Linked DNA regions of Homo sapiens. The protein of the gene in region 2 interacts with the protein of the main gene of each other region in a pairwise test. Each region holds a gene or a part of one and is shown on either strand. Other genes may lie near its edges.

Region 1 (3,812 bases), on a different chromosome or scaffold from region 2:
GCAATGTCTCTCTTGGCCCTCTGGGCTCCTGGAAGTGGCAGGTAATCTACACCCACAGTCTGGACATTCCTAACGTGTCCCTAGATGAACCCCAGAGGATTCTTGAGCGTCTTTAAAATAGACTTGGCAGCTCATACCCCAGGGCTGGGTTCCCCGGTGGCAAGCCTGCCCTGATTCTCTGGGCATGGCAGAGGCAGGCACCAAAACAACTCAAATACCTGGAGGAGAAGCGAGCACCGTCTCAATGCTCATTCTTTCTCAACACCACCTACAGCCATTTCCAGAAACAGCTGCTGGCAGTGGCCCAAACAAAGCCCCTCAAAAAGAAACTGGGCAGTGAGATGAGGGGGCAAGATGAGGGAAATAAGCAACCCAGACACACAAACAGCTTCCCTTTGAGAGAAGACAGGGGAGGGTGGTGACCCCAAGTGATGCAAGCAGAGGAGGCTCCCGTCACTCCCGCTCTGTGTTTGGCTGAGGTTAGAAGAGCCACTTTCAGAACCACCTCCTCTTGCAAGCCCCAGTTTCACTAATAAGCCGTTGACCTTGAGTTTGAGTCTGGGGTTGATTTGCGGCTCTGTCTGGGGGAACCCCAAGGGCCTGTGGTTTCACAAGAAGCAATCCTCCTCATTTTCACAGCGATCGTTTTTCCTCTCCTCTCGCCACTGTGATCAAATTAGGAGGCTGCTTCTCCTAGGAGAAAATGTGTCCATGGTCCCAGGAGGCACTGCCCATTTACCTGTCTGATGGGTTTGGGGAGGGAAAGCAGGATGTATGTGTGTGTGTGTGTGTGTGTGTGTGTGTGTGTGTGTGTCCCTTCCTTCCCTTGTCCCTGGGAGTGTCTCTCCCACCTGGATTGGCCACCCGGCCTGCAGCAAGGACCCCAGGGAGGGCAGGCGCTGGAGTCTCAGCTGCAGGAGGCCTGGCAAGTGGCTGTGTACATGCTGCTGCCCGCCGTGGCTCCACTGCTCAGGCTGCTGGTGGGACACTTGAGGGGCTTCATGCTGCTGTCCCTCTGGATGTGCAAGTGCTCAAGCCGCCAGCGCTCCCAGCTCTTCCGAAATTCCAGCTGGACCTTCCATGGGAAAAGGAGGGAAACGAAAGCCATCATGCAAACCAATGGCTAACAAAATGGCCCCACTATTACATTAGTGGGGAAGGGAAGAAATCCACTGCATTATATTAAGAGACACAAGTCAAGGCCTTCGGGCTCCTAAATTAATATCCCAATAAAATTGTTTATTGTTGTCTCCTATTTTCTGCAGCTCCTCAGGAGAGAGATCAGCTTGATGACCTAATTGGTCTTTTCCATCTCTAAACTCTGTGATTCAGCTAAGTACCTTTTACAATCCATCACAGTATTATTTAACGGAAGAGAATGAGAGGGAGGGTGAAACACAGGGAGACAGGAGATGGGAGAGAGAAGAGAGACTCTGTCTTTACAGCGCACAGTCCAGTTTCAGCTTGGATGCTTGAGAAGGGGGACGGCAACCCCCAGCCTTCCTGGTGTCTACAGCAGACCCTTCTAAACTCCCTGAGGGCTTCTCTCCAGGCCCCAGCACCTCACAGGGGAGGAGGGAGGGAAGGAAGGAATGTGGCTGAGACGGGAAACAGCAGGGAGGAAGGGGCAGCCAGTGAGGGCTTCTCAACTGATGCCATCTAGAGAGACACTGCAGTGACCATGGGGGTGCAGCCCAGGGGAGCTCAGTCAGCCAGGATCCCTGTTGTGCTGGGCTCTGGCCTCCCCATCAGGAAAAGCCTCTCAGGAGGGCTGATGCTTGGGGGCCAGATTGTTGGGGCAGAAAGAGACAAATCCAAGTAACACTGTGGAGCCCCCATCCCTTGAGGGTTTGTGGCAATGCTGTGGCTCCCGGTGGTGGCCAGTGATTCTGGTCCCTGGAGAGGCCTAGCTGGAACCTGCCAAGCTAGTCCTGGGGGGTCTGGACTGCTCTTCTGGGTGATGTTCCCATACATTTGCTTTCCAGAGCTTCTTTGAAGTCCCCACCCTTCCCACACCAGAGTGTCTGGGGTCTGGGCCCTTCCCTTTAGGCCAAGTCACCAAGACAGCCAGATGCCAGCGGCTGTGGATAAGGGGCCAATCTCCCCACCAGCCCCTGTGCAAACAACCCTCCTCTCCTCCTTTGTCGTCCATCCAGCTATGCCCAGCAAGACGCCTGGTATGGCTGCATGCCATCCCTTAAAAGAACATTTTCTGCACTGAGTAGAGTTGAGATGGCCCAGAGGCTGCCTGCCAGGATGACGCCAGTGTCCCATGCAGCGTCATGAACCCAAGCTTGAGTGGGGGAGGGAAGGAGGCTGAGCAGACACCACCTACAGCCACCCTGTTGTATGCCAGCTCCCTGCCCGGCTGAGTCTTTGTGAAGGGAGCGCATGCTGACAGCTGGGATGGGGGCCCTGAGTCCAGTGGTGGCCCCCACTTGTGCAGCTGCCAGGAGGCCAGGCTTGTTTCATAGCCCTTCCGCTGGAGAGGGGGGGAAAGATGGTAAACTGAGGCACACCTCCGGGAAACCAGAGACCAAAGAGAGGTTTCAGGGACACCTATGGGACTTCTCAGGGTGCTGACACACAGTGTCTCCTTCTGCCCCCATCTCCTTCAGCACTTTTCCTGAACCTCTGCTGTGACCCCTGTAATCACGATTGTCCTTGAAAATCACCATATTTATTGGGCACTTACTGTATGCACAGAATTTTCCATTAATTATCTTAGCTGACTTTCACATCAACCCTGCAAAGTAGCTCCACATTTAAAGATGAGGAAACTGAGGTGCAGAGTGTTTATTTCCTCAGGTCGCTCAGCCAGGATTTGAACCTAGATCTGGCCTGATTCCAATGCCCGGCTCCTAACCCCTGGCCTCCTGCCTGCGTGGCTCTTGCAGTCCTGCTTGTCCCTGGTCCATCTCCTACCTCTCACCTGGGAGCACCTCGAGGGCTGGGACCACATCTTCTTCATCTCAGCATCCCTGAACCTAGCACAGTGCCCAGCATACAGCAGGTGCTCAGTACATGTGTTTTAAATGAACCAAATGAATGAACACATAAATGCATGAGCATCTCACATCAGGTTCCTTCTGTTCCTCAGCTATGAAAATGAACCCACAAAGACAACACCACAGATTCTGAGCACCTGGGCTGGGACTTAGGCCACCACACTTCCTCCTCCACCATCGGATTTTTATCCTCATCCCTGCCCTCGACCTCTGCAGTGCAGCACACCCCTCCTGACCTCCCTCTCCAGCAGGCACCATGCCAGCCTCAGGATTCGGGGTGAATTGGGAAGCTCATTCACCTTCATTTACGGCTGGGGAGACAGAGGCAAGGGAGGCAAAATGACTTGCCCCAGGTCACACAGCTCGGCAGTGGCAGGGCTGGGACAAGCACTCAGGGCTCTGAGTCACCTCACTGTGGCTCTCAGGCACAAGCTACAGCAAAACCACCTTCAGGCCTCCCCCTCCCTGTCCCCACTCACGCCCACCAGCAGCTGGTGCAGGCCTTGGCAGCCACACAGAACCAATATTCAAGCCATCTTTTCTCCTCAGGTCACAAGTACCTGGCATTGCCATGGCAACCCTGGGTCTGCAGAACAGCTCTTGTGGACAGAGGCCTTAGCCCCAGAGCCACATGTGTCTTTTGTGGCCCAGTGACAATGATGTATCTGTCCTTGTGCCTGGAGCAGCCAGGGCATGAGGAGTCTCAGGGTGGGTTTAAAGGAACTGGCTGGTGCTCTGAAGGGAGACAGGTTCTCCCGTTCTCTGAGCAGGGTCTCCTGGACCCCGTGGCACTAGCCTGGAAGA
Region 2 (3,812 bases):
AGAATGCTGTTTGCAGTAAACAACCTTGAGGGAAGTTAGTGTCTCCCTCTGAGACAGAGGGCTGTCTTGTTTATTGCTTGCCATAAAACAGCAGATTCCCTAAGCTTAATATTACTCAGCTGTGATGCAAGCTACTGCATGTGCAAGCATTCATCCAGTCCCTCAGCACCACGTGGGACTTAGGGGCAAAGGAAACTGATGCCAACATGCTGATGCACATCCCACTTGCTGTGCCATGAGAAATAAAGTCCTCTGTCTCTGACCCAAGACTTTGTCTTCTGTCAGCATGCAAAAAACAGTGACAGGCTAACTTATTAGCTAATAAGTAGGCTAAGATAAAATCACAGCCCCTGACAGTGTGGAGACAAGCATAGGATGAGGAGAGACATAGTCTTTGGTAAGAGAAAGAATGAGGGCCTCCATGGGCAGGCAATGGGGTAGTGAGAGTCCCCCACTGTCCCACTATTAGAGAGGCTGATGGAAAGAGGTAGGATTGAAACAAGCCACTGAATGTCACCCTGGTTACTGCCCTGTCCTCTGGGCAAAAGGAGGAAGAGGAGTGATCATGACAATGGCAGCAAGCCCAGCAGCCCCTGCCAAAAGGCAATATGGATATGGCTGCTCAATCAACAAGTCTCCAACGGTGCGGCAATAGGACCCTGCTATATAAGATAGAACTTTGAGTAAAATGAAACACTGAAAGATCCTTGGGGGAGCTGTGTACTCAAGCCAAAAGTAAATATAAATATGACTTGCTTTGTGGCTCGGAGCCACTCTCTCCCTTTATGTCCCAGGATCCCTCCCACTCTACCACAACCTCAGCTGCATTAAAGACTGAGATGATTAAAGGTTGGGCTGAGGTTTCCATGTCCCTAAAGGGGACTGAAGGTCATACACACCCATCCTAGTATGCTGGAGAGCCCCAGGGAGGAGAGGGGCAAACTCAGGGCTCTGCTGGATATGAGGTCCCACATCTCCACCCTACCATGTCTCATGGGGGGAAGGATGTACTACACACAGAGGTTACTGCAGACACTCAGGACTGCAGGGACAGCCATAGCAGTGCGCACAAGGACTAAAGGGAAAAGGGCCCCTAACCCTGAGGGAGCGACACTGGGGAGGTCGTGATGCAAGCCTAGTGAAGAGCTAAAGGAGCAGAAAAAGCTTCTCCCCACTCCCTGCAGCCAGCACCGCCACACTCTCCGACTGGGAAATGGCAAAATCTCTGGCTGGCTGTCACCATAGCCCCTGATGCAGGCCTTCTAGACGCATTAGTTCGAGGGGAAAAAGTGTCCAGATTAAACTGGTAATGTTTGAGCCACGCTCCCTGTAGGGAAGGGAAGTTAAAGTGACATTCCAGGCAGAGCTCTTTGGGCCTCTTCAATGTACTATTCCTGTGGCTTCCAGTGCTGAATGTATAGCTGATACTGATCCCATAAGTGTCGAAGAGGATTATCCTGGGCAAGGGCTGCTGTGTGTAGACAGGTGATCCTGTCCTCTCCTGGTGGTCCAGAAGAAAAAAATCTACATCCCTGGAAGGGAAAGGAAATAAATCACAGGCTTAAAAACTTCGTGGCGGCTGGGTGCAGTGGCTCATGCCTGTAATCCCAACCCTTTGGGAGGCCGAGGCGGGCGGATCACCTGAGGTCAGGAGTTTGAGACCAGCCTGGCCAACATGGTGAAACCCTGTCTCTACTAAAAATACAAAAAGGTAGCCAGGCGTGATAGGGGCGCCTGTAATCCCAGCTACTCGGGAGGCTAAGGCAGAGAATTGCTTGAAGCCAGGAGGCAGAGGTTGCAGTGAGCTGAAATTGCGCCACTGCACTCCAGCCTGGGCGACAGAGCGAGAATCTCAAAAAACAAAAACAAACAAACAAAAAACAACTTTGTGGCTGCTGGAGTACTGAGAGCCATGCACCAGAATCACAGTGCCACCTGCTGGACATAGGTACCAAGCACACCCTTTTTAAAAGGACAGCTATTAACTCCTTAGTTAACTACTCAACACTTTGAAATTGATTGCCAGACCCATAAAGGCCTCAGGACTCCCTGGCCTAGTATTCCCACTTTGGGGTGGGTCAATGGGAATCTACTGATAACAAGGGAAGGGTTTAACAAGCCTCACTGATCCTATGGAAATAGTACATTCAAGAGTACAGCTGGTAATCCCAGCTATTCAGGAGGCTGAGGCAGGAGGATGGCTTGAGGTCAGGAGTTCAAGACCAGCCTTGGCAGGATAGTGAGAACTCAGCTCTTAAAAAATCTGTTTTAATTAGCTGGACATGGTGGCACGTGCCTGTAGTGCCAGCTACTCAGGAGGCTGAGACAGGAGGAGCCCAGGAGTTTGAGGATGCAGTGAGCTATGATTGTACCACTCCACTCCAGACTGGGCAACAGAGTCAGATCTCATCTCTAAAAAAAAAAAAAAAAAAAAAAAAGAGTATAGCTAGCCTGGCCCTAGAGGCATCTTGGTTTTACGTGAAGAAGTGGCAGCTCCCACTCTGGGAGAAACAACCTTCTCTGCTACCTGAAGCCGAGCTGCTGTTCAGTAGGGCCCTTGATTCACAGGGGTTCCTGTAAATGCTTAGGCCTGGCTCACCAATGATTAGGCTGAGTTAAAAGCTGATGTTGCCCACCAAGCAGCAGCAGGCACTTAGCCCCAATGATAACTCTGGATGGCTGATGGCAGTAAGGATTGAAGCATTTGGTATGCCACTTGGAAGACTAAATACTGAGAGATGAAAGCTGAGAAGTGTGGAAACACATCATGGCTGCCTGCCAATAGGACAGACTGGATCACTCACGTAGGTGCCCACACTAAGGGCAGGTACTCTCGTAAGACTGACTGGAATCAAACTGCTGATCCAGCCTGCACCACCAAGACTGCTGCCATAGCCACCTGGATTCATGCAACCGGTGTGGAAACATCTACCATCATGGGCTAGGCACAACGTAAGGGACTACATGTTTCTGAGGCAGAAGCCACCACTGCGTGCCAGACTTGTGACTCCTGCCAAAAGTTGGCCTGCTTGTCTTGCAGTAAAGGAAGCCACATTGCAAGGGGCACTGACCACACCTGCTCCTGGGAGATTGACATTAGGACTTTGTTCCCTTCTCTAGGCTCTCATCAGTACCTTGCTACTGCTGATACTTTTTCAGTTTACAGTGCTGATGTTGCTTTTCCAGTCCAATTATCTGACTCTGTGTATACCACTGTGGCCCTTGAAACTAAACTGCCAGGTTTTCTGCTTTCCAAACCATCTACAGTCTGACACTGGCATATCTTTTTGTCGCAATGGCCACCCAACAGTGTCAACAGTCAATAGCCAAGGTATTCGATGGACCTCCCACACTCCCTACCATCCACAGGCATGACATTGTCAAGTACTGAACAGTTCCCTCAAAGATCAACTCAAAAAGATTTTTGATTCTATGTTTTTAACCTCCTCCTGGTCTGCAAACCTTACTGAAGCAGTTTGGTCACCTAAGGCAGCCATTCTCAGAAATGGGTCATCTCCTTTTGCCTACCAACTGGGTAATGATCAGGAAAAAGGGGTGGAGGGTTATATAAACCTATTTTGAAAATGTGAGATTCTCCCCTGACCATTTCTGGCCATGATTCATCTTTCTTCCCCCTTACAGAAAGCCCAGATCAGCTGGGAGGAGGAGGCTATCTATGTAATTCAGACTTAATTCTAGTTCAGTCACTAGATTGTCTTGTTGGAATGGCCTGGTGCCAGAACATAAAGTTAATGATCATTTGGTTGGGTATAGTGCTTTTAAAGTCCCCCTACAGTGGCCCACATGTGTCA

What was found.
Region 1: the proteins of POMT2 (region 2) and GLP1R interact in a protein complementation assay, tested with the Homo sapiens proteins (one large-scale study listed by BioGRID).

The regions. Positions count from the first base shown.
Region 1 is NC_000006.12:39,083,169-39,086,980, reverse strand, and holds part of GLP1R (glucagon-like peptide 1 receptor precursor), read right to left. Parts: intron 1,076-3,812; coding exon 908-1,075; 3' UTR 1-907.
Region 2 is NC_000014.9:77,314,153-77,317,964, forward strand, and holds part of POMT2 (protein O-mannosyl-transferase 2), read right to left. Parts: intron 1-3,812. UniProt on the Homo sapiens protein: Transfers mannosyl residues to the hydroxyl group of serine or threonine residues. Coexpression of both POMT1 and POMT2 is necessary for enzyme activity, expression of either POMT1 or POMT2 alone is insufficient.